Linked DNA regions of Homo sapiens: region 1 is linked to region 2. The links come from fine-mapping of genetic effects on gene expression. A gene starts in region 2. The other region holds a variant in brackets. All regions are shown on one strand. Distances are from middle to middle.

Region 1 (15,742 bases), 150 kb after region 2:
AATAGGAATACCATTGGTAAAAGCTTGATCAGGAAAAATGAACAGTCTTGTCCTTGGTGCTTCACACCCAAGAGCCACTGGTTCCCAACCCCTCAGGCGGAAGCAGACTTTGGTGGCCTCATTGCCTGTGACCCCAGGCCTCCAGTCAAACGCATGGCCTGGCAAAATTCCTTTCTTGGAAAATGCCTGAGATGATCGCATGAATCCTCCTACACAGCCTAGGGATTACAACCAACTGGGAAAGGAGTGGAGGAAGGAGGTCACTGGCCCCAGGAGGGTGAGTCAGCTGTCCTACCAACCCACCCCTCACTCCTGATCTCCTTCTGCTGTGATCCACCTCTCAACAAAGAGTTGGATCTCTCAAGATCCATCTCTTGGCCTCACGTTCCTGACTGTGGACCACACTCTGGCCCCTCTAAGACCAGCACTTGCACAGGCCCTGCTGGAAGTACAGCCTCAGCTCATGGGGCAGTTTCAGCATGGCTTGACTCTCACGCCCTGCTGCCTGGGGAGGGCCACACAGCCCAGACTCAGCCTCAGCCTCAGGAAAGCCAACCCCCATCCCTACTTGGCCACCATTAGCTGGCAGAGCGGGGGGAGGGGTAGGTGGGTCCTGATGCCACTGCCATGAGCCACAGCAACTGTCAGCTAAGACCCCAGTCCCGTAATTGGCACCTAGCAAACAATCTGGGAGGTGCTAGGGTTGGGCCCCCAGCATGCGTTAGCCATCGTGGTTATAGAAGCAGCAGCCTCCTGAGGGCAAATGTGGACTGCAGTTGCAGTGTGCTTCCTAAAGCATTGGTCCCCAGCTCAAGCATGGCCCCAGGGTAAGTGGGGGCTGCGAGTGAGGCACAGATTCAGGAGTGCAGAGCCAGGCTAGGGCCTTGGCTGTCCTGGCTTTGGACCCCAATGAGATAGGCACACCCATTTGTAGTTGCACGTCACGATGCTGCAGTATTCATGTCATGGTTGGCTGGCTCTCTGCAATTTCCCCCTCTTCCAGAAGTAGCACCCTGTGCAGTCCAGGTCCTGAGTATCCCCCACCCATGCACTGGAAAGACACCCAAGTGGATGGGCCAAAGAGTCTGCCCACCAGAGTTTGGGAATTGACACCTGGTGGTACCAAGACACAGGGCAGTGGGCACTGAAGTTGAGTCCTGTAAGGGCTGGGCCCCCAGAAGACGGCCACCGCCTCCTGCTGCCCCAGTCCCCACGGCTACCTATTCTTCCTGGGCCAGTGCCTCCTGTAGTCCACAAAACACCCTCACTTCCTGCCAGGAGACTCTTTTTTTGTTTTTGTCAGATAAGACAGAGTCGGTTTCTGTTGCTTGAGTCCGAATGAACACACGGCCCTCAGCCACGCTCTCATTTTACAGGTGTGACCTGGGGCCCAGCAGGCATGTGACGTGTAGAGGTTGCGCTGGCCGTGCATGCAGGTCTGAGAGAACCCCAGTTTCTAGGCACCCCCTCACTCCTCTTTCTGACAATCTGCTTGGTAAACGTGTGGACTCGGCCCCTTCCTGGGGCCCTCTTGGCTCTGCCTTCAGAGGTGTCCACATGCCCTGTGTTGGTGCTGCTTGGGAAGGCAAAGGCCCCAATCTGCTCAGACCAAGTGGTAAGCTTGGACCAAGCGGATCCAGACCTGTGGGGAGGCAAACACACCCTCACCACCATCCCTCCCCAGGAGCGCATCCAAAGGCCTGGCATCAGGGCTTTCCAAACTACCAGGAAAGGGCGCTCCACAGGTGAACACACTTCCAGCTCCAACAATTTCCCAGGGAAGAAAAAGTTGCCATGCCCCTAGATAAAGGGTGTGCGGAGCAGCAGGGGAAAGTGGAGCAGCAGGGGAAACGGCTTCTGGTGTGCGCACTGCTCCCTTAGCTGCAGGAGTGTCCCTGATCTCAGTAGTAGATAAACTCTTGGCAAAGCTGGGTTTTCCATGGTTTGCTGAACTCCTGAACACAGATGTCCCATTTGTGTTTCGTTAGTACATCAGCCGCTCTGCGGCTTTCGACCTCTGCACCAGGCAATAATTACCTGGCTCGGGCCCATCCCCTCACCAGCTGGCCGGGGACTTGCTCTGCCCGACCAGGGCTGTGTCTGCTGTCAGCCCTTTCCAGGCAACTGGACAGCTCCGTCATAACCAGAATGCCTCAGCTGGGCCTGTGTTAGCATGAGGGGCTGTGGGTGGCGGGTCCTGTAGACTCTAGCAGACACCTCTAGAGAGAGAAGAGGTCTCCAGAGCCCATCTACCCCGGGGAGGCTGGAGAGAGGGAAGGGGAGGAGGTAGAGAAGGAGGTGGGGAGGAGGAGGAAGAAACCTAGAGGGGCAGGAGAAGGGGAGAGGAGGGGAGGAAGGGAGGAGGAGGAGGAAGACGGAGGGAGGAGGAGGGAGGGAGGAGGAGGGAGATGGGGGAATAGGAGGGGGAAGGAACCTAGAGGGGCAGGAGAAAGGGAGAGGAGGGGCAGAGCAGAGGAGGGGGAGAGGAGAGGAGGGGGGAGAGGAGAGGAAGGGGAAGAGGAGAGGAGAAGGAAGAGGGACAATGGGGAAGAGGAGGGGGAAGGAACCTAGAGGGGCAGGAGAAAGGGAGAGGAGGGGGAGAGGAGAGGAGGGGGAAGAGGAGAGGAGGAGGAAGAGGGAGAAGGGGGAAGAGGAGGGGGAAGGAACCTAGAGGGGCAGGAGAAGAGGGGAGGAGGGAGGAGAAGGGGGAAGATGGAGGAGGGGGAAGAGAGGAGGAAGGAGAAGAGGGGAGGAGGACCAGAAAGAGAAGGAGGCAGAGGTGGGTTGGGGCCCAGGCCTGGAGCTGGGAGCTGCATCTCTGAGCTGAACATGCTCGGGTGGGCCTGGCAGGCTCCATGGACCCCTGCTCCATTGCCTTCTGGCTCCAGGGGAGGGGCCAGGGTGCCATCTCAGTCCCACAGCAGAGGACATGTAAGGGAGCCTTCTGATGGGATGTCGGCTGGGTTTCAAGAGCGGCCTTGGCAAAGTACAGGGCTTTCCCCACTCTCGTCCTGAACTGACGCACTTGGGCATGGGTGAGGGGGTCAGGGCATTGCCCTCCCTATGGGTCTCCCTTCCCCAGGCTCTGCTCTTGGGACTTCCAGAAAGCCCCCAGGGAGGTCTTTGTGGAGGAAAGCATTGCGTCTAGGCTCTGAGGCACACAAACAGAAAGGTCCCTAAGCCCCAGCTCACTTGTGTGGAATTTTTTAAGACACAGTCTTAAAATATGTAAATAGTTGTTATTCTGTATAGTTTTTTAAAATGTGTATTTCTTATTGTTGTATTTTTTGTTTGTTTGTTGTTGTTTTTGGAGACAAGGAGACAAGGTCTCACTCTGTCACCCAGGCTGGAGTACAGTGGCATGATCTTGGCTTACTGCTACTTCTGCCTCCCAGGTTCAAGCCATTCTCCTGCCTCAGGCTCCTGAGTAGCTGGGATTACAGGCACCCGCCACCACGCCTGACTAATTTTTGTAATTTAGTAGAGACGGGGTTTCACTGTATTGGCCAGGTTGGTCTCAAACTCCTGACCTCAAGTGAGCTGCCCACCTCAGCCTCCCAAAGTGCTGGGATTACAGGTGTGAGCCACCGTGCCCGGCCTACTGCATGTGAAATTCTAACGTGGGTGGATCAAAGGGGATTTGCCGAGAAGCGAGTGAAACTTAAGCTCCAGGCCCCCTCACTTGCCCAGGTACCTTCCAAGACCCTGAGCTGAATTTAGAATTTATAGCTCTGTAAGAAGGCGCCCCAAATTGTATAGGTTCCAGGACCCCTAAAACCTGGATCTGACTCTGGTATAAATTTTCAGCTCCACCTTTTCATCTACATTGAGATGTGGGATATCTACATTCAAATCAAGAGTCACCATGGTGGGGCTCAGAGAGGCCAAGTCTTAAATCAGAAATATATTGACTTTCGGAAGAAGGACCCCCACAGAGAAGGTAGCGAGGGAGTAAGTGTGGCAAGGGGAACAGAAAGGGTAGCCGGCATTCTTTAAGTGTGTCATGAGCATACATGCTAAGCATTCTGAATCACGATCTTGTTTAATCTTCCCAGCAACCTGAGGAAAAGTTGTTCTCCCATTTTGCAAATGAGAAGAATGGACCTCAAGGAAGTAACTGGTCCGCAGGAGTGGAGTTGGAATTGAAGCTTAGGTTGGTGGGCCCTGGAGGCCACACTCTTCCCACGACACGTCATGCACCCAGATGTGTGAGGGAGCTGGTGGAAGGCACAGTGACTGGAAGCATTTTGGTGAAACTACAGTCCTCAGTATCTATGCTTCCCACACGCACAGATTCAACCAACCGCAAGTCAAAAATGTTTGAAAAAAAATAAAAATACAACAATAATGGCCGGGCGTGGTGGCTCACATCTGTAATTTCAGCAGTTTGGGAGGCTGAGGCAGGAGGATTACTTGAGCCCAGGAGTTCAAGACCAGCCTGGGCAACATGGTGAAACCCTATCTCTACAAAAATACAAAAATTAGTCAGGCATGATGACAAGCGCCTGTATTCCCAGCTACTTGGGAGGTTGAAGTAGAAGGATCGCTTGGGCCCAGGATGTCAAGGCTGCAGTGAGCCGAGATGGTGCCACTGCACTCCAGCCTGGGTGATAGAGTGAGACCTTGTCTCCTTGTCTCCAAAAACAACAAAAAACAAACAAAAAAATACAATAAGAAATACACGTTTTTAAAAACTACACAGAATAACAACTATTTACATAGCATTTACAGTGTATTAGGTATTATAAGCAATCTACAGATGATTTAAAGTATATGGGAGATGTGTGTAGGTTACATTCAAATGCTATTATTTTATTTTATTTTTTAAGAGACAGGGACTTGCTTTGTCACTCAGGCTGGAGTGCAGTGGCAGTCACAGCTCACTGCAGCCTCAAACTCCTGGGCCCAAGTGATCTTTTCACCTCAACCTCATGAGAAGCTGGGACTACAGGTGCACACCGCTGCACTGGGCTAATTTTTTTTTTTTTTTTTTTTTTTAGAGGTGGAGTCTTGCTATGTTGCACAGGCTGATCTTGAACTGGCCTCAAGTGATTCTCGCAAAATGCTGGGATTACAGGTATGAGCCACCGCACCTGACCCACATTTTATATTGTCTGATCATCCACGGAGTTGGTGTCCAAGAGATTCCTGGAACCAATCCCCCACAAATACCATGGGACCACTGTACTGACTACACTGGTCAATGACCCTAAAACATTTCTCATGTGACTAGTACATGGATATTAACTATTTGGTACCCTTTGTTACTGATGTACAGCATATGAAATATCTGTGGTGGTCTCTTTAGTCAGACTGATGTTTTAGTTTAGTTTTGATTCTTAATGAACGTGTATAAATCTATTGACATCAATAAATTGTTTCACTTGTGATCTTACAGGTTCTTCATCCACAAATTCTCTCACAAGAGGCTTTTAAGAACAAAACTATCACCACCAAGGAGAGGAGAGAGAGTTGATACAGCCAAGGATAACAAATTTCATCTTTCTGCACCAACTCCCATAGGTCAGCAGCAACTTCCTGAAGTCCCGCGTGCAAAGGGACCTTTGGGCCCAGCAGCTGTGATCTGTCAGCAATGCCTGCTCCAAGCACGGGAGGGAAAAGAGGCAGTTTTTCCGGCAGGTACTTGTCAGCTTCTGGAAAAGCAAAGATAGACAGAGGCCAGGCCCTCCAGCTACAAAAATGAGTATTCTTTTGGGGGCTGTGACGAGACTCAAATGTCCTCAGCTAAGAAGAAGCTGGACTTCTCCCACCCCGGAGTCCCTGGGCACCTTGTTAGCTAGGGTGGCTCTGGCCATTGATGAGAGAAGGCCAGGAGGATTAAGACCAAGATTTGAACCTTGGACAGCCAGGAAGTTGGCATCACTGTCACCAGAAGTCAGCAGGCCACCTTGTGCTGGATAAGGTGGGCTCCACCACAGTCCCTGCTTGAGGAAGGTCATGGCCACTTCTGTCCCGACCTCAGGGGCTCACTGGATGGTTTAGTTCAAGGGTGGTCTCAAATGGGCCACCTTTGCTCTTCTTGCAAATGTGGCAGATGTTGAAAGCAGCACTTTCCTTTAATTTTCACAAGAAAACACTCACGTAAGACCTTTCTGTGTGGGATTATTACTGAAGTCTGGGGTTACAGGGGATCCCACTGCGCAATGAAGCAGCTTAAGGGTCCTGTGGTGGTCTCCCGAATGCTCACGAATCCACCGTCCTCCCGGAATGGGACTAGAGTGAAGCCCACTTGCCTTGGGTGCAGAATTTAAGAGCAGCCAGAATTCAAGATAAATAATGTTAATGCAAAAAGTAATGGGGAAAAAAATCCACGATGAACAAAAAATCAAAATTTTATTTTATTTATTATCATTTTTTTTTGAGATGGAGTCTCGCTCTGTCACCCAGGCTGGAGTGCAGTGGCGCCATCTCGGCTCACTGCAAGCTCCACCTCCCGGGTTCACACCATTCTCCTGCCTCAGCCTCCGGAGTAGCTGGGACTACAGGCTCCCGCCACCACGTCCGGCTAATTTTTTTGTACTTTTAGTACAGACGGCGTTTCACCGTGTTAGCCAGGATGGTCTCGATCTCCTGACCTCGTGATCCACCCGCCTCGGCCTCCCAAAGTGCTGGGATTACAGGCTTGAGCCACCGCGCGCCGCCAAAAATTTTAAATAAAGACAGAATCAACTATGCCGTTCCATATTGGACCCTGAGGCAAAAGGAGATATCCATGAAACAGATCCTGTCTTTACTTGAAATGTTGATAGTTCGTTCATCATGGATTCCTTTTGTTAATTTTGAGTTTTAAAATATGGCATTAAAATACGATTTCCCTTGATGATTGCGATTTTTGGTGCCCCTTCAATTCTGTGCCCAGGCCAGTGCCTCATTCTCCTCACCCCTGCTCTGCTCTGCCCCTCTTGGCCTCTGCTCCCAGCCTCATAAGAGCATTAAAAATGTCTTCCTCCAGTTTTCCCAGGGCACCTCAACCCTTCCCCGCCCCTACTCCCAAATACAGCACCCCATCTCCCAAGACCTGCCACTTTGAAATTGCTCTTGGCAGAGGATGCCTCAATGCAGACAGTCAGGTGAAGGCCACATGCAGGGACAGGAATGAGTCCACGAGGGGGTTTTCCCCAGTTGGGGGCTTCCTCACATGGAGGGGCTGTCTTTCAGCTACTCGGACCCCACAGGACAGCCCCCAGAGCCAGGAGGAGGCTAC[A/G]AAGGCGGATCCAGGTAAGGTGTCCTAGGAATTGGGAGGATAAAAATAGTGGTCACTAGACATGAAATCAGATCCACACAGACACAGAGTGCACTGTGAAAGGGGGTCCCTTCTCTGGAGTCCAGGCCCTCCTCTGGGTCGTGAATATTCTCCAGCTCTGGCTGGCATCCAGGGAGGTGGGGGTGCCCCCTGGGCAGGATGCTGCTGGGTCCGAGGCTGGCCTGGAGGATGAAGGGGGGAGGATGAAGCCATTCTCGCCCTTACCTCTGGAGCTAGGCGGACTCCCCATGGCTCCCACCGGCCCCTCTGCTCTTTCTGCTCCACCCTCCGTGTCCAGGGGAGCCCGATAGAGCACGCGGGAAAAGCCGGGTGTCTACGCTTCCGCGACTTAGGCTGCAGAGATAAGAGAAGGTCAGGCTCTGGGAGGACGCGAGGCCGTCCAGGAATGGCAGGGAGGCCCGCTGGGGCCTGACTTTGGTCCTAATGGACCAAAGCTTCGACGGAGCAAGGCCGGGTGTCCGTGGTGGCACCTCTCATCAGTGGACGCTGGCGAATGACTATGGAAACAACATTCAACAGCAGTGTTTTCTATGCCAGGTACACAACCGCCTTGGCGTGGGTTGATAACCATGCCTATCTCACCGCGTGGCACTGAGCCGACCGCACACCCAGGGCCCCGGTCTCCAGGGCTCGCTTACTCGCTTACTGCGTGAAGCATCCATCCCCGCAGGAGCCGGAGCAGGAACAGGGCTGGGCCCTGGGGCGCGCGCATGCGCAGGCCGTGCTCCAGGAAGGGCGGGGCACTGAGCCGAGGGCCGGCGCGGGGCGGAGGGCAGGGGGTGGTCGCACTCTCCAGGGCACCTGTGCGGTGACTGAGAACCGACCCGGCAATCCGCGGGCCCGGGCGGGGGGAGTCCTGTCTCTGCCGCTGACCAGGTGCGTGACCTTGGGCAAGTCACTGAACCTGCAGGTGCCTCCGTTTTCTCGTCTGGAAAATGAGGGTCCTAGAGTCGCCCATCTCATAAGTCGTCGTAGCTCCGGGTATAACTTAGGCCGGTGGCAGGCACGGATGCGGACTCTCTGTGCGGCAGCGCTGAGCATTCCGGTGGGCGCCTAGGAAGGGCTATTCTTATTCTGCTTCCTACCTAGTCTCAGCAAGATGAGACCCAAAAGTATTTCTCCACCACCCAGTACTTATGTTGCTTTCCTCCATTAAAATCACGACTTTGTGTAATTTGACAGGATACCTTGCATGTACGCCTTCTCACTTGACTGTCACATGAGCCTTTTGAGATGGATAAATTTTAGGATTCTTCCCATTTTCCAGATAAGGAAACTGAGGCTCAGAGATCTAGTGGCCAGCCTGAGGTCCCACAGCTAGAAAGTAAGGAAGCTGGCCAGGCGCGGTAGCTCACGACTGTAATCCCAGCACTTTGGGAGGCCAAGGCGGGTGGATCACCAGAGGTAGGGAGTTCGAGATCAGCCTGGCCAACATGGTGAAACCCCGTCTCTACTAAATATACAAAATTAGCGGGGTGTGGTAGCGGGCGCCTGTAATCCCTGCTACTCGGGAGGCTGAGGCAGAAGAATTGCTTGAACCCAGGAAGCAGAGATTGCAGTGACCTGGGATCGCGCCACTGCGCTCCAGCCTGAGAGACAGAGTGAGACTCGGTCTCCAAAAAATTAAAATAAATAAAATAAATAAAATAAAATAAAATAAAATAAAATAAAATAAAATAAAAATAAAATAAGGAAGCCAAGACTGAAACCCAAGTCTTCAGATTCCAAAGCTGGGGTGCTGCTGGCTCGTTCTGAAAGCAAGCATGATGGCCATCCTTTCTAGACATATCAGCGGTGTAAGTTCACACTGAAATTGCCCTGCATAATTAAGGATTTTCTATTATTGGGGAGAGTGTGACAATACAGTAATATTACAGTTATACTTTGAAAAAGAACCCTCTCCCTTTAGAGAGACACACTACAATCTTCCCAAATGAAAGGATACGATGTCTGGTGCCCATTTGTTTTTAAATAATGGGGTGCGGGTGCACAGATTAAGCAAAACTGGCCATAAAAATTGTTGGAAATGGGTGATGAGCACATGAGTTCATCACATGAGTCTGTCTACTCTTAGCACATGTTTAAAGTTTCCATAATAACAATAAAAATAAATCAAGTTTTCTCAAAACTTCTTAAGCTGAAGCACACCTGTGTTGCTGGAAGAACTCAATCCCAAGATCTGTTTTCCAGCAACTGAGAACCGACCCCACAGTCTACAAGCCTAGGGGGAGTCTTGTCTCTGCTGCTGACCAGCTGTGTGACCTTTGGCAAGTCACTCAAACTGCAAGTGACTCTGTTTCCTCATCTGAAAATGAGGATTATAGGGGTGCCCACCTCAGAGGGAATGAGACCCCTGGGACTGGATGCTGGGTCCTTGAAAGCCACTGAGCTAGGAGTCCCACACCCAGGGCCTGCAGGGCCAGGCAGGCAGTGTCACTGAGAGGAGTGACAGGTAGGGACGGTGACAAGTGGAAATGTTCCCTCCAGCCTAATGGTGTGAAGGGGCCACATATTCTTCTTCAAGAAAGGTGGTGAGCTAGCTCTTGACCTGACATTTCCTGGTTTCTAAAGGTTGGCAACCAATTCAAATGTAGCTGTGAACCAATTGCCTATATGTGACCAATTTGCCTCCTGGAGCCCGGGCTAGCCCTTCTCCTTTCCCCCACACCCTTTGGAGAAGAAAGAACCAAAGCCCAGAGTGAGGAAAAACTCCCAAAGTCTCACAGCGAGTCAGATCCAGCCCTAGCACAAGACACGCGTCTCCCCTCCCCTGGCCCACTCCTGGTTTCATATTTCAGTAGTTGGAGGACCTTTCCCAAAGAAGAGACCATGCAGAGACAGAACAAAGAGCAAGCACCAGATGACAATGTCTAGGAGAATGTCAGTTCTGCTTCTGAACCCAAATGAGTGAATATGCCCCAACGAAGGCAAGTGGGGGCGAGGTTAAGCGGGGGAGGGGGAGGCCACTACTGTAGACCTTAAGATCAAACATTTGGGCCAAATGAGTTTTACTTATTACTTGGCTAGGTGGGTTTACTGAGCAAGTTATTTAACCAGGCATGACCTCTGTTTTCCCATCTGTAAAATGGGAGCATACACACAGCTTGCCCTTTTCTGTTTTATGCAACAGTATAAAAGCTCAAAGCTTCTTACAAATTGTGGCGATCTCCTCAGAGCCTGCGGCCTTGGGCAAGCAAGGGGCCACTCCAGTGTATCACTGTTATCACTACTAAGCACTATTATCAAAACAAAAATGGAAGAAGAACCAGTGCCGAGAACTCATGGATCTAAATGGCTGAGCTCTGGAATCTCTCTCTTTTCAGAAAGCAGCGTCTTAGGTGAAGGAAAGAGCATCGAAGATTGGAAAGCAACAAAGACTACGCCCTCATAGTTCTCATCACAAGGCAGAGACAAGCTCATGGGGAGAAGATGCGTATACACAACATTCCTCTTGGAGCTTTTCTGAGTTAGATAATGACATTTCTAACCCAGTGCCAACAGTGTTTGAAACATCACCCAGAACCAGCGACATGGCAAGAATATGGAGCTACAGAAATAAAATATGCTGAGCATAGAGAGGGGAGGGCAGGGAAAGCAGAGAGAAAATCTCAGATCCAGAGGAGGAAAAGCCACCTGTGACCCTGAAGAATGCTGGACTCTGCAACCGGCTCAAGCTGCTGAAGACAGATCCAGCTCTTGCTCGCCCAGACAGTAGTCTCCCCAACACCCCAGAAACAGAGCTGCAAGCTGGCCTGTGGGAACCAACAGCCCTCTTGCAGCTGCCTTCTGAGCTGGGTTTTCACTTCTGCAAGATAGGAATAATGAGCTCCACCTTATGAGATTCTTGTAAGGGTTAAGAAGATGACTGTGGACAACAGGAATTTTTAGAGACTCAGTTCTTTATTTGCCCAAGATCACGCAGTGTCCAGGCTAGGACCAGATCCAGGCCTATGGGTTCTGGTTCCCAGCCTTGTGTTTGTTCGCTAGGCCACCCTGCTCTAAGTGGCCTAACACCCTGTCACTTTATTAATCTACCAGGACAGAAGTCACAGTCTGGTGGTGTGAGAGACCATTTTGGTCTCCACGGCGTTTCAATTTTTATTTTGTTGCTGGCATTTTTTGTTAAGTGGGAAATTACACATAAAAGCACAGATTTGCAGCTTCCCTTGAGAAATTATAACCTCTGCAAATGCTGGGCCTGGTTCCCACATGGAGACAGCTGGCTGGCCTGAGAAGTAGCTGCCTCCCGGGGGCAGGTCCCGGGCCCTCAGCATCTTCCTCCAGGCCTGCTTCATCCACTTCCTTCCCTCTCAACCCGCGTATGCACTTGGATGTGGGACACACGGCTTTTTAGAGGGAAAGCCCTTGGCTTGCCTAGAAGCAGCCAGGGGACCTCTCAACACCAGAGCCAGTGAAAATTGCAAAGCATCCCTCGAAATGCGTCCACGGCGATTAGCAGGCTGGAGATGTGATTTATGAAGAAGAATGAACACAGGAAATGTGCCGACCTTGGCTGAACAGTGACGTGGGCAGAGATGCGCCCCATTCACGGCCTCAGGAAGGAGCCGAGTTGTTAGAGAAAAGCCCAGGGGGGCAACTCAGGGAAACAGAACTGAGCCGGGGAAATTTTCAGCTGAATTATCAGGAAACTACCCCTGGAATTGTGAACGCCTGGGCAAAATGGAGGTGTCGATGCAGAGAGGGAGGGGAAGATACCGTTCCTGTTTCTGCCTGACTTCTCAAAAGAGGTCACCAGATCCATTCATTGGGCATTCAGGAAACAGCTCTGCACAGAAGCTCTGTGGACTGCAGGAAGTGGCTCCAGGAGGAGTGGCCAGCTGTTCAGCCTTCGGCACCCAAAGAAAGCGGCAAAGTCAGGGTCATTGGGGCCTGACCTGCCTTGACATCAGAAATAGAAGGACAGCACGGGGGGTGGATCCAACCTGGCATAACGGGCACAATGGCTGGAGTATGTGGACAGTGTTGGTGGTTATAGGCATGACAAAGGGATTCTGGTTTTGGAAGAGTAGCCTATTGAATAGGTATTTCAGTCAGGTCTCTTTTGAGTTGCAACAAAAACCCAACTCAAACTGGTCCATGTGCAAAGGAAAATTGTTGGCTTCCATAAATGATCATTTCAGAGGTAAATTGCTTCAGGCATGGCTGGATCCAGTGGTTCAACTGACATCCTCAGGACCTGGGCTCTCTGTCTTCTAACTCTGCTTTCCTCTGTGTTGGTTCTCAGGCAGACGCTTCCCTGTGGTGGTAAGATGGCGCCCACCAGCTCATCTTAAGATCCCATGAAGCCCAGGAGACATCCTGAGGGCAACTCTTACTGGACTAGTTTTGGATCACATGCCCACCCCGCAGCAACCAATCAGATTGGTGTAGGCATGTGGTACTGTGATTGGGCATGCAACATTCTGGGCCACCTATGGCACTAGGCGCAAGGTGGGGGCTCTATCCAAATGAGCTGCCTATAGACGAGGGGTTCTCCATGGGAAAATTAACATGCCATTTTCAGAAGTAGCAGGGGTAGAACTGAGAGGGCAGGCAACATGGCAGGGGAGCAGACGACAGAGGTTGCTATCAGGACCCAGCCAAGCAGGGCTGTCACCAAAGCTCTGGGGACACTCAGTGGGATCTGGAAGACCACCACTGAGGCTGGCTCAAGTCTCACACTGGATCACAGCCCCAGGTCCCCCCACCAGCTGATAGGGCTGGGACAATTAACATTCTGGTCCCTAATGTGGGCTGCCTCGGGGTCTGGGTGAGCCAGCAGCTTAGAGGGGTCAATGCCCACTGCCAAGAAGAGCCTAGAGAAGGCGGGATGCTGGGGCTTCCGGATTCCAAGCTCAGAAGGGCAGGAGGGCACATCCCAGGTACCCGAAGTATAGTGTCAGGAGGGCACGGATTTCACTCTCCTTGCCAGGGAGTGCCTGCCTTATGCGTGGGCATGGCGTGTGTCCCCATTCTAGTCCACGACAGGGGCGGGGAGTTGGAGGAAGGAAAGGCCTGGGCTTCTGGACAATATTTTGCTTGCTCATTAAAAATTAAAATTATAAAAAATCCCATTTGAAGAAAGAGTCCAATTTCCACCTTTGGACTGCCTTGAGTCTGGGTGGCACGCGGGACTGAGGCGGGCAGCCAGGCTGCAGCCATGCGGAGGAGCTGAAGGTGGCCAGGGAGCCAAGGAGCCAGGGCCTCTCGTGGTGGTGGCATCACCTCAGGAAAGCCCATCAGGTAATGCAGTCCCCGTACTCGCTTTTGCAGCGGGTTAAGCAGCGTTTCTGTTGTCTGGAGCTGAAAGCAGCCTCCTTGACACCAGGACTCAGAGCTGGGATCAGCGTGAACTAGGAGTGACAGGGGAGCCAGACCGGCTGCTCCAGCTTCCCCCTGGCCCTGAGCCCTGTGGCTTGTCTTACTGAAGACACGTTGGTCAGTTTCTGCTGCAAAAAACTGCTCTTTCCTTCACTTCTAGGCCATGAAGGGAAAACTGTTTCCTAAATAACTGTCTTACCCTGGTTTAAATAAGTCTCCCACAAAATGGCCAGAGACTGACGTTTCCTTTTTACACAGTCAAAAAAGAAAGCTCCCCACCCAACTGTCCATCAATAGAGGGTAATTAAGTTCATTCAACTACAGCCATTTGATAGCTGTGTGCACAGCCGCTAAATTGATGCTGACAGATGATGCTTAAAGACACGGGAGATGCTTTGTATATTACTATTAAATGAAAGAAAAAAATACAGGTTACAAAACTCTATGTATGCAGTATGATCATATACATATATTTTTTTTAATATGCACACACATAAAATAAGACTGGAAGGAAACACCACAGTGTTTGGGTGGTGGAATTTGGGGTAATATTTATTGTCGACTTTATACTTCTGCACATTTTTCAAGTTTTCTACAATAAGCATATATTATGATTGTAACTTAAGAACTAGAGTGAAGACTCTGAGGACATACTTGGCAGCCCTGGGGGAAACACTTCGAGGGAGAGGAAAGGAAAATCTTTCACGTTTCCATCAAGGTCCAGGGCTCCAAGCACCCACAGACGCCACATTGAGCCAGAGTGAGCGTCCGGGTGTTTCTGGCAAGTGCAGAAGGAAAAGTCAGAAGCGCAAGATTCTGGGGTCCAGGAACCTTTCAGGGTGTGCAACAGCCTCCTCCTCTCCCTCTGCCTCCATCAAGTCTACCTCCCACCAGATCTCTGCGGTTCCCTCTCTCAGACTGAGCAGCAGCAAAGCCCCCGTAAAATATCTGGTGTCAAAGCTGACCTCGCACAATCCGATTCCTTGGGAGTCCCTCATACTCAGGGAGTTTGGCACGTGGGAGGTTAATTCTCTTATCAAAACTGTACAAAATCCTAATTTTGCAGAGTGGCAATTTGGGGGAAAAAAAACCCAGCAATGGGAAAATGTTGGTTATGCAGCACTAGACATTCAGTTCTCAGGGGATCAATTATAAAAACACTCATTCAGCTATTTCTATTCAAATGAACACCTGAAGAGGAGGCCTCAATGGTTTTAAAAGTGTGTGGATATTACTGGATAAATGTTAGTCCAATAAAAGAGATCATCATCCGCTATTTGTGTACATTTAAGTTGACACTAAAAAGATCTTTGTGGAGTATCGCTGCGGCTGCTGCTTTTTCTGCATGCATCTTTTTATCTCCTATTCCCTTAACACTTTAGCAACTGAAGAAAACAGACCAAATGTGGCTGGTCATGGTTTTCTTCTCCTTCTCCTTCTTCCCCCAAGATTAAAGGGACACGGGTGTTGCGAAGGCCACACCTGAAGTGGGCAGCCTGGTTGCTCACACTGATGAATATGTAATGTCCTGCTTGGAGGCGCAGTCACGAACTCCTAATAAGAATTCACGAGTCTGTGTTTGAAAACAGACATTTGCATTTGCCCTGCGGTCACAGTACATGGACCATTCTTATTCAAAAATTTATTTTTTTCTTCTTCTTTTTAAGACCTGAAAATATTCTATGCCCTCTCTCCCCACCAACACACAGATACACACACCCTTCTTTCTACGTTCTCTTTAAACAGAAATTAAGATACGGAAGCCCAGAAAGCCCAGCAGCCCCCACTCCTGCAGCCGCTGGGCCTGGGGCGGGAACTGCAGCTCCCAGAGAGACGGAGACCCCTCCAAACCTGCTTCGAGCAGATACTAGTTTTCTCTCAAGTCCAAGGGCTTTCTTGGTCCAGAATGAAATGCAGAATTTTTAAAAAGGGGAGTAAAACAACATGGGGAGAGTACGTTGAGGGTCAACAAGCCCACTGAAGTGAAGCCAGGGTGTGTAATCCACTTGGCGGCTATAGGAACCTGCCTGGCCCAGGGCTGGGACGCTGTGCCCCAAGTTCCCGGGGGCAATTTGGTGGTGGCAGGCGTTTCCCGGTCAGTGGCTGTGGTTTATGCAGTTCAATTTCCCGGAAAAA
Region 2 (15,742 bases):
TAAAATGCATAACAAAGACCGGCAATTGTCAAATAGAAACGCACACAGCCTGGCAGTGAGAGGCAAAATATACAACCTACTGCTGAACCTCATGCTTCCTGCCTAAGGTGATTTATCAGGGGACTTCCTATTGTTGTCAGGTACAGGAGACCCTTTCCCAAAGGAAGATCAGCACTTAGAAATAAAAGCTACGACCAGCATGGCCAACATGGTGAAACCCTGTCTCTACTAAAAATACAAAAATTAGCTGGGCGCAGTGGCGCACACCTGTGATCCCAACTACTAGGGAGGCTGAGGCAGGAGAATCACTTGAACCTGGGAGGCGGAGGTTGCAGTGAGCTGAGATCACACCACTGCACACCAGCCTGGGCAACAGAGTGAGACTTTGTCTCAAAAAATAAAATAAAATAAAATAAAATAAAATAAAACTAATAAAAACTACCAGTAGTCAAAGATGTATCATGTGTCAGGCACTGTTCTAACTCTCTGAGGCTGATACCACAATCAGGGTAATTTTATGGATGAAGAAACTGAGTCACAAAGAGGTCAAGTAATTTCCAGGTCAGGTTGAACCTGGGGATTCTGGTTCCTGAGCCGGTGCTCCTAACTGTTATACCACACAGCCTCTTTTAATAATTAGAACCACTTTATACATTTTTTGCATTTTTCTAATGTACACTTTAAAATGAATTTAAGACGAACAATGCCACCAGCTGTGAGAGCTCCTGTCCTTTGGAATACCCACGAACATCTCACGGAACCTTTGTGTGCCATGGAACGGAGTTTTGGAAATGGTGCTGGAGAGATATATGCAAACACTATTTAATACTGCCAGAAGCTGTTTCAAACCATTTATTGATTGATTTCATCACTCCCCTTTCTCGCCACCCCTCTTTCCAGAAGAACATCTTACAATAAAAACAGAGTAAAATCAGATCAAGCAGGGAGGTGTAATATTACAGGTAATGCTGTAGAAATTAAGCCCGAAATCTTGTTCTGAGCTTCCCAACAGCTGGAGTCTGGAGCAAAGGCCGGCTGGGCGTGGAGTTCTTATTGTCTTAGAGGTAGGACCAGCCCGTGTGTCAAGAGAACCAATTTTTCTTGGCCCAGTGCCCTAGAATGCACTTGTCATAGAGACATTTGCATTAAGTGGCATTGAGCAGTGTAATGAATTATATCCCCAATAGTCATTTTACAAAAAGAAAAAAAAAATGCAGTGATGTTCCTTGGGCAGCTCTTGCATCACCGTGGAACCTTTGCTGAGGGCAAAATATTAAAGTGTTGCTCCACGAAACAATTCCAGAGGGGAAATCGAGTAACTCCAGCACCTTGATTCTAGACCAAAAAGGAAGTGGAAGCAATTCTGGAATTTCAGCTTAAGCTGCTTTCAGATCTGTTCTCCCATCTTTATGCCTGCAGCCTTCTTCGGCATTGTCTCCCAATACCCAGCTCTGAGCACATGCTGTCTTGCCCAGAAGATTGCAACTATTCTGCAAGAATGTTTCTCTCCATGCACCAACACAGGATAGGTACTCACTGAGCATTTATTGCTGAATAAAGGAATCATTCAAAACTTAAAAATACGAAAAAAAAGGTCTCACATCACTCCTGCCAACTTGCTGGTCCCCAAAGTCAATGTGCACTTGCCTTTCTCTGTGCCTTCCCTGGCCTGGCCCCTGCTGTTAAAATCATACTCAGATGCCAACTCCTCTATGAAATTTCCCTCTTTGCCTCCCGCAGAAATGCGTACCATCTTCACCATTCCCCCCGGCATCCAGCACAGACAGCTGCTTACCCCGGGGCAGCAGGCAACAGTGGCTTTTAATGTCAGGACGCCTGGCTTTGAGGGGCTCCGGTAAGTCTCTTAAGCAAGTCTGAGCCTCGGTTTTCTCATCTATAAAATGGCCAGGCGGGAATGAGGAGAGCTCTCTAAGTTACAAAGAGCTACGTTAATGTGCATTCACCCAGCAGTGCCCCTCCAGCCTGAAGGTGGCTTTACAGCAAGGTACTCATCAGCGTCACCTCTCCATCACCAAAATGTCTAGCAGGGGCCTGGCTCAGAGGACTGAATAAACGCCGGCAGACTTAAATGCAAGGGGTACAATACATGTGCTTTATGGCTGGTATGCTAGGTCTCCAACCCAGATATTCTGGGCAATATTCATAAATATCTAGAATTAACTCCCAACACTTCACATTTCTTTGATTTCATGGTTCTAAGAATAGAAATAACCTTTCAATTTTAAATAGAAATTGCGGAGCTGAAGACAAGTGACGAAAGTCTTCCAAGACATCCAGGCTCAACTGCAGAGTTCAGGGAGGGCACGGAACACCGAGGGGGAGGTCTGTTTGACAAATCTTTGAGCCAAGCCAGAGTTCCAGAGAGCGAGGTCTGAGGCGGGCTCCGCTGGAGGCAGGCACAGCCTGGGCAGAGATGATTAGCAATAAATGGAGAACACCTCAGGGGACCCTCCTACAGACAGTCTGTCACCCAGTGTTTTTACCATTCCATTTCAAAGTTTAATTAGATAATCACTTTCCAATGCCTACATGCAATTAACCCCTTTGGAGCAGCCCTCGTTCACAGTCAACTTTCACAGGCCACAGAAGCCGAAATGCCCACGACGAGCCTCGGCGTCGCAGATTTCAGGAAAACATTTCTCAAGGAGAAAAATAACTAACAAACATTTGTGGGTTTTAAAGAGAGAACTTCTTTCTTAAATGCCAGAAAGAAACCATTTCTCATCCAAGAGCTCAGCGTGAACCATCAGTCCCTCCTTCCTCGTACAAGGCCATGGACAGAACCATCTTCGGGCGCAGCCAGGCTGAATTCTTCTGCTAAGGGAGAGAAGGGGCTTGCAGCCTGCCCTTCAAGGCCACCTGCCCGGCCAGCTGCACGTGCAACCTCCTCTCCCTTCCTTGAGGGTTGCTGTGCTTGTCCCATTTCATTTAACACACTGGGAGAATGCAGATTCCCTATGGTCCTCTTTCGCCCGTGTGATTCACAAACCCAAGACGGCAAAAGACCAAACTGAATTCACAATGTCCCTGGACTTCTTTTCTTTTCTTTTCTTTTCTTTTCTCTTCTCTTCTCTTCTCTTCTCTTCTCTTCTCTTCTCTTTTCTTTTCTTTTCTTTTCTTAGAGATGGGGTCTCACTGTGTTGCCCAGGCTGGTCTCAATCTCCTGGCCTTAAGCAATCCTCCCACCTCCACCTCCTGAGTAGCTGGGACTAGAGGGGCACACCACCATGGTCAGCTTTCCTGGACTTTCAAAAGCGATTTGTTTATTTGCATGGTCTTTTAAAGCACTCCTATATGTCACGTGACCCTTCCAATATCCCCACGAGGTGGACAGGAAAGGGATTGTTATGCCTGTGTAACATGCAAGGACACTGACTCACAGAGGGGCCAGATTCAATGTCACACAGCTGGTAACAGGCAGAGCAAGATTCCAACTTAGGGCCCCAGATACAGGCTCCCAGTTGCACACTCTTTCCACCATGCTGTCTTTATTTATTCCATACCTACTTATTGATTGCCTACTATGGGCTAGGCCCTGGGGATTCAGCACTTCACAGGTCACAGGAGCTACCTATTCTCAAAAGATTATAAAACTAATGGAGGAAGCAGACATAAAACTGCAGCGTGAGAGTCCAGTGAGAACTGGAAGCCCTGGGAGCCACAGGATCCCAGTCCAAGAGCCCAACCTGACACTGGGAAGCCAGGTGAATAAAGCAGAGCCAGGATGGGGGTGAGCAAGGCTGGAGGAGACACTCAGTCTGTGGGGAATGCAAGTCCTGGCCCTGTGACTCATGGATACACTGGAAAATATTTAATGACTGGCTCTGGGGGGAAACAGACGTGATGTGTAGTGTCTGCCCACTCCCCTGGTGTAAACGCTGCCATTTAATGACTGGCTCTGGGGGGAAACAGACCTGATGTGTAGTGTTTGCCCATTCCCATGGTGTAAATGCTTCCATAGCTGCTGATGTCAAGCTACCAATGTTAAGTCACTGCAGGTTGGGAAGAGATGCAAACATGTGCTCCTGCAAGCTGGTGCAAGCTGGTGCCAGCCAGTGGAGGCCGACTCCAGCATGCCACTGAAGTGACATCTAGAGCAAGGCCTGAAGGGCTCATCACAGGGTGGACACAAAAGATGGATTTGAGTTTGAGTGAGACCAGAGGCAAAACTGAGGACAGGTTTTTACAGAGCTGTGCTGTCCAATACTGTACTCACTAACCATATGTGGCTATTTGGTTTAGATTAAAATGTATTACAATTAAAAATTCAGTAGTTTGGTGGCACTAGACACATTTCAGATGCTCAGTGGTTACATGTGGCTAGTGGCAATCACATTGGACAGCACACGTTTTAGAACATTTCCATCCTCATTGAATGTTCTATTAGCTAGCACTGTAGGGAAGGAGGGAGGCAGGATGAATTTCTAGCAAGAGAAGAGAAGCTGTGACATGGAAGATGAAGGGTCAGCTAAAATAAGCTTCCTCAATGTCCCAATTTCACCAAGGATCAGCCTCAAATGAAGGATGGGTTGAATGAATGAAAGTTAAGATGTTGAGCTCCTCTACTGTGCTGAGCCTTTTTTTCCTTTTCTTTTCTGTTCTGTTCTGTTCTCTTCTCTTCTCTTTCTTTCTCTCTCTCTCTCTTCTTTCTTTCTTTCGTTCATTAGCTTGTTCTTTCTTTCTTTCGTTTTTGGTCAGGGTCTCACTCTGTCACCCAGGCTGGAGTGCAGTGGCATAATCTTGGCTCACTGCAGCCTCGACCTCCTGGGCTCAAGCCATCCTCCCACCTCTGCCTCCCAAAGTGTTGGGACTACAGGTGTGAGCCACCACACCTGGCCCTGTAGTGAGACCCTTGCTGGGTGATCTGCTCCCTGCCCTTGAGGAATTTACAGCCCTGGTACACAGTAGGTGCTCAATACATGTGTCAAGGCATTTTGGACCATCTTGGGGACAGTGCTCCATGGAGCACGCTTTGGGATGCACCTGTCCAAACACAGCCCTGTGTGAGCAGGTGAAGCCCAGGGCTGCAACTACTGCTCAGGTGCTCAGGTGCTGGCCCACAGATCATCCGGCTTGGGCTAAGACACCCATCGGGAAGTAGCTTTCTCTCCAGTGAGACTGTACTGTGTATGTTCCTTGTTTCATCAGCACACAGGAGCATGGTGATGACCACAGATACACAGTGCTCGGGTCAGTTGCTGAGGAAACCAAGCCCGTGTTTAACAGCTAAGGCAGCAGCAAGCCTTTGGTGGAGCCCAGCACAGCCCCACCTCATGGAGTGGAAGCCGGATTGGAATCTAGCTACACTTTTCTCCAAAACCCATGCTCCGTCCCTACCCCCCACACACTCACCTCTTGATCACTTTCATATCACAGCCCCTGCTCATCCGAGAACCTCGTTTCCTTCCCAGAAGTCCTCCTTACTTCTCTTCCCACAGAGCCCGTGTCGCTTTCACAGCCACTTTAAAAAGGAAAAACAAAGGTGACTTTTATTCTATTCTAAAAGTAAAATCTCACTCTTTCAAGAAAATTAGAAGGCAAAAGAGAAGTGGAAGGATAAAGGAGGAAAAACTTTGCCCATAGTTCCAACCATACAAAGACAGGCACTGTGCGGGTATTTTCTGTGTAACTTTTACTTTGTGGAGCATCTTTTTCGTGATCATGCTGTGGATTCAGCTTTGAATCCTGCTTTTTGTCTCAGCACGCGATCACCTGCACTCCCAGGTTACTGTACTCTTACCAACATGGTTCTCCACGGCAGCATCAATTTTAAGTGGCGGGTGGACCCTGGTTTACTCAAATCGTCATCCACTTTTGTTGGACATCTAGGTTATTTCCAATTTCTCTTTCAAGTATGGCAGCTTGGTTTACTTCTCCAGCTTTTTCCACGTTTCAGAATCTTTCTTTGGGATAGATTTTCAGCAGTGGAATTACTGGATCAAAAGATATGTGTATCTGGCTGGGCACGGTGGCTCACACCTATAATCCCAGCACTTTGGGAGGCCAAGGCGGGCAGATCACCTGAGGCCAGGAGTTCAAGACCAGTCTGGCCAACATGGCCAAACCCCGTCTCTACTAAAAATATAAAAATTAGCCGGAGGTGGTGGTACATGCCTGTAATCCCAACTACTAGGGAGGCTAAGGCAGGAGAATTGCTTGAACCTAGGAGGCAGATGTTGCAGTGAGTGGAGACCTCACCACTGTACTCCAGCCTGGACAACAGAGAGAGACTCCATCACAAAAAAAAAAAAAAAAAAAATGGTGGGAGTATCTTAAAGTTTCTTAATACAGATTGCCAAATTTCTTTTTACCAATTTATACCCCCAAAGCTCAGGTGTGGTGGCTCACACCTGTAGTCCCAACACTTTGGGAGGCAGAGGTGGGAGGATAGCTTGAGCCCAGGAGGTTGAGGCTGCAGTGAGCCAAGATTATGCCACTGCACATCCTGTCTTCTCTCCTCCCTCACCAGCCTTTGATTTTATTGTAATCTTTCCTCACTCCATAGGTTCATGTACTAACTCATTGTTTTATCTGAATTCCTTTTATTATTTTGGTGATGGAGACTTCTCTCAAATACCAACAACCGTTGAAAAGTTTGGTGGCCACTAAAACTGGACATATCTTTAATAAAATTGTGCCAGGTTCCAAGGCTGCCCGATCGGCAGGGAAGATGCAAGGCTGTCCTGGAAAGTCCAAACTCTGGGAGCTTGTGGAGGATTCTCCGTGACCACGGCCTTCTGGACTCTGGTATCCCATCCCCATCACCATTCCTACACTCACCTAATGCCACCTCTTCAATGAGGACAGTGAATTCCAAATAAACGGCTATTTGTCTGTGTTTATAAAGCAAAGGACAAACAAAAACAAGCCTGGCCTGAGGGGGCTGCAGAAGGCACCTGTCACCCTGCAGACCAGAAGCTCAGGCAGCAAGATCCAGTGGAGACTAATTCCAAGACGCTGGACGGAAAAGAGGTGGCTGGCATTCTAGATGACTATGCTAGAGGCCTGTGGCTCTTCTGTGAAACTCCCTGGGGAACAGGGGGCAGAAAGAATATAAACAGAAATATGAAGTTGGAGGCTGAGAAACAGAAAAGGAGAGAAGAGGCAGGGCCTAGTGGCTCAGGCCTGTAATCCCAGCACTTTGGGAGGCCAAGGCGGGCGGATCAGTTGAGGCCAGGAGTTCCAGACCAGCCTGGCCAACATGGAAAAACCCCGTCTCTACTAAAAATATAAAAATTAGCCGGGCATAGTGGCGGGCACCCGACAGTGAGAGCCGGAATCGCGCCACTGCACTCCAGCCTGGAGGGAGACTCTCTCAAAAAGAGAGAAAGAGAGAGAGAGGGGGAGAGAGAGGGAGGGAGAGGGAGGGAGACAGGTAGGGAGGGGAGAGAGAGAGAGAAGAAAAAGTTACAGGGAAGAAAAAAAGACAAACGGCGAGAATGCTGTAGGATGGGGAAAGGCAGACAGAGCAAAGTGGAAGTCAGAAATTGTGATCCGCTGCTCTAAAATAAATCAAACAGGGAGAAAAGAGAGACTCAGGGGTATGTGGACAGAGAGTAGAATGGGGAGGCACAGGACAAGGGAGTCCCCCAGGCCGGAACAGGCCAGAAAGCCAGAACCTGGTCGAGGGGAGGGGGCGAGCAGAGCGGCGGGGAGCAGACGGGAGAGAGGGTCGCGCCGAGCCGCGAACACCCGAGGAAAGGCAGCCCCGCCGCGCCACTTCCAAGGGTCCGGGCTTGGGCCACTCGCCCCATGCCCAGGGTTCGGGGGCAACACCAGCGGGCGGCCGCAGCCAAGGAAGGGGCTCCCCAAAGTTTGCAATAAAATCACCCACGCCCGCCTCCGTCTCGGAGGGACTTCGTGTAAATGCACGAGCCCAGGCACCCCCTCGGCCCCTCGCCCCCCTCGCCCCCCAGCCTCTGCTGCAGCCCGGGCTGCTTCTCCCGCGGGCGGGTGGTGCTTGGAGGCGGCGGCGGCGTGCGGGCCAGCTCGTGGTAATCCCCGATGCTGACGCTAGAGGGCGCGCAAAGGTTGCTGCGCCGCGCCAGGTCTGCGAGGAGCGGCGGGTAGAAACGCAAAAAGCGTAGGGCCTGCGGGTGTCGGCACCAGCAGTGGGGTGCTAGGGGCTGGACAGTGGGGTGCCGCGGAGCCGGGCAGTGGGGTGCTGGAGGCGCTGGCCCGGATGGCTGATGGGAGGGTGCCATGCAAAGAGGTGTTGCTCACTTTATTTATTTGGAGAGAGGTTGCCCCTGCATTAAATCTTTGCAAGACTGAAACAAGCCGGTGCAAAACTAAATGAGAGACAGGCGGAGGCAGGCAGGGCAGGAGATGCCCCACACCTCGCTCCCTGGGTTATGGAACCCCCAAAACTGCTTTGGGGGAGAAATAGTCTGATCCCACCAGTACTCACCTCTCCACACACACGCACGTCCTTTCAGAATGGGGTTGGGCGGGGGAGGTGGTGAACTTTAAAAGGCTTTTAAAGGAACAACAACAAAAAAAAAAAAGGTTTGCACAAGGCTGAGGTACTTGAAATGATTTTTGTGTTGCAAATTGCTATGCTTTTACTGAGGCGCTGATGAAAATAAATGAAGCTCCTCTCTCTCTTTTTGCTAATAAATGAAATGAAAAAAGCGCCATTATTATGCCACCTGCTTCTAATTCCTAATTGTGGTAACTTAATTCTCAGATTGTTGTTAGCTGCTTAATATCGCAGGCGCACAAGCAAAAATAAAAATATGAGGGCCGTTTGGGTCTTTTTTGGCCAACGAGGTGGAAGGTGCTTGGACTCAGTTTTTTGTTTAGTTTGGTGACAGTTCCCACAGTGAAATGTGTGCACGGTATTGGAAGGGAGAAATCTTTATTCTCTTCAGCATCCCAAGGGGAGCTCAAAAGGAATAAAAAGGCTTCTGAGCTGCTCAAAACCTAAATAAATAGTCCATGAAAAATGATCAGTGACAAGGTCCGTATTTTTTCCATACTGAAATAGAATGGTGCATATTTCCTATAAAAGAAGAAAACATTAATTTTTATAAGCTGGTTCCTAAATGCCTTCTATGAACCTCTGAACCACACAGTTCCCAGCCTGGGCATTGTAGCTGGGTCCCTGGCTGAAAAACCTTTCTTTCGGGTGTGTCACAGATGACAGGTAAACTCCTTCCCAGTCATTATTTCCGGGCCCTCCAGTCTAGGGAGGTGGGGATGGCCATGGGGCGGGGGGCGGTGGGGGGGGGGGGTGCGATGAGACTCTTAAAATTTCTCCCAGGCAAATAGAAATTAGCAGATCTGAATCACAATTCTGTGAAAGTCAAGAGCTATATTTAGCTTCTTCTCTTATTTTCCATTAAAACCAAGTTTTTTTGTTTGTTTTCCCTGGTCTCTCTTATTGTTGGGAAGTTCTGGAGTATCAGACTTGTCAGGAGAGTGTGAGAGAGCCCGAAATAAGTACAAATTTAGGAGAGAAAATGCCATATTTCTCTGGTACAATTATGAAAGGATAGAATATTGCCATACACTGTAACACATTTTTTTTTCTTCTCTAGTTCCAGGCAAACAGCTAAATAAACACATAATAAGCATTTAATCGAGAACAATTTGTCACAATGTTGCTAGTCAACAAGACAGAACTGCCTTCTGTGAAACCGAATAAAATCAACTTAATACTTCATGCCCTGGCCTCCTTGGCCTTTGAGTTTTTCACATGAGATGCGTTTGTCCCTTATGACTGTGAATGAGAGTACCTTGGAAAATGCTGGCTCAATTGCATCCAAGCCAGTTTGGGGCCTGCCGGGGAAAGCAGCCAGACAGACCTTCAATCCCAGTTCAAACTACCCTCTAAGTGTTGCAGTGACACATGGCAATGTCCTGTTGACCATAAAATCCCGTTCTAGCAGACGAGAACACTGTCCAGCTCTAAGCAGAAGGGCAGCCCGCTCGAGCAGACCGCGAGATGCTGCCCAGTCCAAAACGTGAGCAAAGTTCACAGGGGAGAGAACGCAGCGCAGCCGCCCCGAGTCAGCCCTGAAGCAAGAAAAACCAAAAGAAAACACTTGTGAATGAAACTTAAAGCTCTCAATGGAGCTGGAGCAGCAGGTGCTGTTTAAATAACCAAAATAAGGTTGCAAGCAACAGATCCTATGTTTGCTGGGTTCTTTCCTATGCTGCATGACATTAGAAAGGGAGTGTGTAAAAATATAAGGCTACATCTGCAGGCAGAGCTAGGCTGATGGTGAGGAGACGCAGCAAATGAACCCCAAATTCAGGAAAATATGCAAAAGGTTTGCTCTTTAAATTCTACAGGAAAACAGAAAGTGGAAAATATGTGTGTCTGGGTTGTAGTGAGGAGGGATAGATGAAACATAGAATGCTAATGTGTCTCATGATCAACCGAGAGTATCTTATTTACATCTTAAGCTATTTGTTGCTGATTTTCCATGCAACTGTTTTGTACTGGAATTCTCAAAGCTGAACCAGAAGCATTTAAATGACCCTGTACGTTTGCTGTGTGTCTTCTAGAAGGTGTAGACACACACACGCGCGCACACACACACACACACAGCCGGTCCCACATCTATGTGCATAAGCCGCATATACTCCCCCTTATCTCTACAAATCTCTGCCATCTCTATATTCCCAAACACAGGAGAATCTATGTATTTATTTCTCTCTTGAACTCGACTATGCAACACAAGTCAACACTCTTAAATGTCATCTTTTAATACCTCATGTAAAAGGCAAACTTTTCCTAACATGCTTTTCTCCAATCCTATTTAATGAACTCCCCTGAACACTGCATGTACCCAATTTCATCTGTAGAGGTAAGGCATAATATTAAAAAAATTTTTTTTTGGTATTAAAAAATGAAAGGAAAAAAGCAGGGGAAATATTTTGAAAGTCAATTAAAATTTTGTGTACGTTTTCATTTTTTAATGATAAATTAAGTTACTAATTTTGTCCGTGCTCTTTGTAGACACTGCAGGTTTAATTGCTAATTGTTAACTGCGAATGAATACATTTGCATATTAATTAGCTCCCAATTTACATTTTTAATTTGCTTCCTTCAAAAGGTGCAAGATAAAAGGTCGTGTTATTTTAAATAATTTATGCTTTATTGCATGAAATACGCTAATATGAAATGTGCCTACTAATTTTAACCCCTTTTCTAAGAAGGAAAATGAATACCATTAAAAGGGGAAGGCAGAACTGGTGGTGTTTTGAAAAACAACATTATGCTACGTTGTACCTCAGCAGCAGAACTGCTTTTTCCTGCAGTCTCCTTAGGCTGAAAAAATGAATGCATTTTTTTCCTTTACCATCCGTTTAAAAAGTGATAATATATTTGAAGAACAAAACAGCTGCAGTGGGGGGAGCCTATCAGTCCTTTATCCAGGAAAAGATAGACAAAATGAGTCTTGTTTTCTAGTCAATATCGCCAGCAAGTGGAAGTCCTCCCAACACCGCCCCCCCACCCTGCAGTGGAGACGCCTCCAGCAGAAACCGCTTCTCCCCACGCCAGTCTCCTCACCCACCAAAAGAAAGTTTTGCAGCTCACATCTTTCTCTAGGCTTTGGAATCCAAGTTCCTCGCCCTGGCTTCCTGAAAAATCGTGAGGTGGTTTGCACAGGGGAGAGTTCATTCTTTCCCAATAGCTGACCAAAGAGGTTCTCAAATTGTAATTTTCACTCTTCATCCCTTGTCAGTCAGCTTCACTGTAAGAAAATAAAAGCCTATTGTTAAAGTGGTGATATTAATACATCATGGTTTGGACAAGAAAACTAATATTCAGTTCTGAAAGGGGTGTACAGATTGGTATATTTTGACCATTACTGGAAACATCTCCTTTTATTTTCTTCCTCTTTTTCTTTTGTATGATATTGTTTTGAGACATACCTACTAAAATGGTGCTAATATTTCACAGAGCTTTTAAAATAATTTGTCTAAGCATGCATTAAAAATTTTTTAAAACAGGGCTTGGATACTAGAAAATATGATTATGGAAAAATATATGTACAATTTGGAGGAAATTGAAACCTGTCACTTTGTTCTCTGGGTTACTGCTGAGTCTCAGCCTTTTTATTGTGTCTTATTTTTTGCAGATGGAACCCAAGCCAGACTTGTGGTAAGAACCTCCTAGCTGAGGGCCACCAAAGATCACACTCGCCAGGATTAGTTTATGTAGATATGCAGGCAAATAGCACTGGGTAGCCTCGCTGCACAGATCCAGGGCTCTGACCGAAACCCTCTCTTGTTCTGACACCAAAACACCCCCTTCCCGACCATGTGGGACAGGCCTGGGATGGAAACGCATTCGAAGTGTTAAGCAATGGAGTCGAGTCAGTTGTTCACCAGAGGGTCGATCTTTCTAGGCAATTATAGCTGCAGTGACAGGAGCACTCGCAGGTTCATTGTGGAAGACACACTGGCAGTTAGGTTTATCCCTCCAGAGGAGCCAGGTGCATGAACACATCCCTCCAAGTCATTAGGATTTTCAAGTAGAAAGATTTCCTTCTGCTCACATGAACATCAGCAGAACAAAAACTCGCGGCAAGATGCAACCTTGGCTGTTTGTCCGTCTAAGGGTGGGGGACTAAGACGAGAGAAGCTGCAGTTTAACCATGTGTTATTTCAGTCTCACCTGGTCATCAAAAGAGGCATGAGAATCGCCAAATCCACCAAAACCAACGAGCTTGCAGCCATTGTTGCCTAATAGGGAGAGGTTGAACACAGGAATGCGAGGGACAGTTGCCTTTTGTGAAACATGGATGGGTAGATGGGCAAATACATATAGAGATACACAGGTTTCATCTGTAGTGGATATTTTGGCTTTTTATTCAGCTGTGCATTGACACTATCGTAAATTCGCCGGCACAGACACTGTGATTGAAGACAGGCTCTCCCCGCATCATCCCTGCACACGAGTCTTCCTGCGTTTCTGTCTCTGTTGCCGAGGTTTCTCACATTTCATACCTCTACAGCCCTCCCGTAAATCAGGGGTTAATTGTGATTCTTTCAGACCCATGGAAATAGGAAGCTGAGACTTCTGAAGGATCACTTGCAAGTCGGGAAGAGCTCGAAGGGAGGGGGCTACTTTCTGAAATCCAACTTTACTGCTTTTACCGAACCATTTGTTGTGCGTGTGTGTGTGTGTCTAAAAAATACATTTGGTACAAATGTTTCAAAGTCCTGGTGCGCTTTAATTAATAAAGCCACTTAGGACGAGTGCAAATCGTGCACGCGGAGATGTGCACAGCCCAGCATCTTTCTGACATCCAGCCCGGTTTGTTTAGTGTAATAGTCAAAACATTTTTTCTTCTCTCGGGTCATGTTGATCTGTAGAATAATTTGAATTCTCAAGCTGTTATCCATACATCACTCCCAATAGCATCCAAATGAAAAGAAACAATTTTATATTCTATAATTAAGCAACATCAAGAATGCAACAGGCAGGAGGCATTATGGTGAGGGGGTGGGGGAGTGGTTAAAGGACTGAGGCCTGAGCCCCAAGCCCACCAGTGCGACCCCAAGCAGGTGACACAGCGGCCTCACCTAAAAGACTCTCTTCACCTAAGTGTTCTCCATACTCAGCCGCAGAGCTCCCACCCACACTGTCTTCCCTCCTGAAACAAAATCTTTCTTTCTGGAAAATTTCAACATGTTTGACGGATTTATTCCACTGGGGATCCTCCACCCCCCTTTTTAAAGGAAACCACTTCTGGGGTGCACAGAGCAACCCTCTATACCATGTGTATACAGAAGGCTGGGCTGATTCCTTTCTTTTTATTTTATTTTATTTTTCCCCGTAACAGGAGAGGGTTTGAAGAATGCTTCTACCATGGATACCAGAGAGGGGAATTTTAAGTAGGCAGAATGTAATCACCCAAATTGGAACTCAGCCAGGACACTGCCAGGGCAATTACTCCTCCTCTCATGCTAAATACCAGGGGAGCATAAATGACCTGCGGTTTTGCACCCTCCTGCAAGCGGAGGGGCTCCCAGGGGCAGGAGCCCGGGAGCTCCCCTCGGACAGACCAGCAGCTCCTCCCCATCACCCCTGGCTCATCCCTGTCTTCAACTTGCCCTGCTCCAGGTTTCTGTAATTCCAAGGGTTTTTAAGCTGAGGTCAGAAATCACTTTTTAAAATAGTATTAATTAGCTCCCACCCCCGGGGTGTCTTCCCTCTCCCAGGACCTGAGCCAAGGGTTCCTTGTGTCCTATATGATGCAGCCCACGGTTCTCTGTGTCCTGTATGATGCAGCCCACCTTCCAATGGCTCTGGGGACATTGCTTCTCTTATCCCACCTCCTGAGCCCAAAACTGAGGACCAAGGAGGTAGTAACTGCTCAAGGTCACAAAGTCGGGTTTCAGCATTGTCAGACCCCAGGCCGCACATCTGTCTCTTCTTTGATGGAAAAAGAAGAGACATCTCTGCTTATACTTTCTCATAGAGCACATTTCTCTTTGAGGGCAAGGATTTATTTTCTAAACAGGTCTCAGTGTTGTAAGTAGGATTGTAATGAACATCCTTGGTATATTTGTCTTTGCACACTTCTCTATGTCCTTAAAATAATTTCCTAGGAGTGGAGTTGTGCAGTCAAAGAAAATACATATTTTAAAAAACAACATATTATTAAATTGCCCTCTGGAAAGGTCTGCATGCTGGCCAGCAGTGTGAGAGTGTCTCCTGAAAGTGTGGCCCTTTTAAAGCTCATTGTCTACACATCCAGACTCCACGTGGACCTGACCTTGTGAACTCTCACAGTGACTGGGATGACTATCGCTACTGCGTTCATCAGTGGCTTTATGTGAATCTGTTGGTTGTTTCAATGGGAGGGCGAGCTCGCTGAGGTCAGGAATCGTGTTTTATGTATCGCTGTCACCCCAGAACCTAGCACAGAGCCTTGCACATAGAAATGGCTCCATGAATGCTTGTGCCGGTGAATTTGTAGAGCCCAAGGCTGTTCAAATGGAGAACACACCTGTGCTGAGTGAGAGACAATGTCCTTGGTGGAAACTAAGACAGGGGTTGGAGTCAAGGCCACGGAAGTTCCAATTCCTCTCTACCATAGCTGGATCTGTGGCCCTTGAGCAAAATCACTTAGACCAGTAGAGTCCCACTTCTCCCATACATAAAATGGAGCTAACGGTGTCTGCGGTGCAGCGCTGCTGTCAGGAGTAAAGGTCAAGTATGGTAAACACCTGGCTCTAGGATTTTTAGCCTTCAGGTTCCTATTCACAGCAGCCCATGACTCACGGGTGGTGCTGGTTTATAACAAGTTTTCACTAACCTACAGCCAAGTGAGAACAAGGAAGATAATATGTGGAGTTTTTCATAAAGCAAAATCCTTTCCATCGGAAGGGCTGTTTTATTATGAGATGATGTCATTTCTACTTCTTCTTTGCTGTTTAAACATCCTTTTGTTTATGAAATTATGGTGACAGTATGTGAGAAGCTGTTTTTTTTTTCTTTCTACATTTTCAACTTTGACAAAATTCAAAAGTTAGCGACTCTCTCTTAGCCTCTCTCACCCCAAATTTGTTTCATGTTTTTCTGGCTCATAAACATAAAGGGCTTAGAACAAATGGCTGAGGCTACAGCTTCATTCAGATTTCTGATCAAATCTCCCAATTCTAAACCCTTATTGAGGGTAAGAGAAAGAAGAACTGGGAGGCAAAAATGCAAATGTCCCCCATAAAACTACTCACAGTTATTTTTGAGTGATAC

Alleles and levels. Alleles are on the strand shown, and positions count from the first base shown. SD is a standard deviation of normalised expression in the study named.
For the expression in lung of the gene that starts at base 8,452 in region 2, allele G in region 1 goes with a lower level than allele A (small effect, 0.23 SD a copy in GTEx).

Evidence for each region.
Region 1: its variant is fine-mapped to the expression of LINC02299 in lung (GTEx, PIP 0.97).

The regions. Positions count from the first base shown.
Region 1 is chr14:96,584,997-96,600,738 of GRCh38, reverse strand. No RefSeq gene overlaps it. Among named protein-coding and RNA genes, the nearest start is that of PAPOLA, 90 kb to the right of the region's middle. RefSeq lists a silencer at 7,929-8,108. The variant A/G (reference allele first, on the strand shown) is at 7,226.
Region 2 is chr14:96,733,901-96,749,642 of GRCh38, reverse strand. LINC02299 (long intergenic non-protein coding RNA 2299) reads right to left here and starts at 8,452. Exons shown (of 4, transcript NR_146552.1): 1 at 8,432-8,452; 2 at 5,374-5,482. RefSeq lists a silencer at 7,901-7,950 and an enhancer at 8,286-8,786.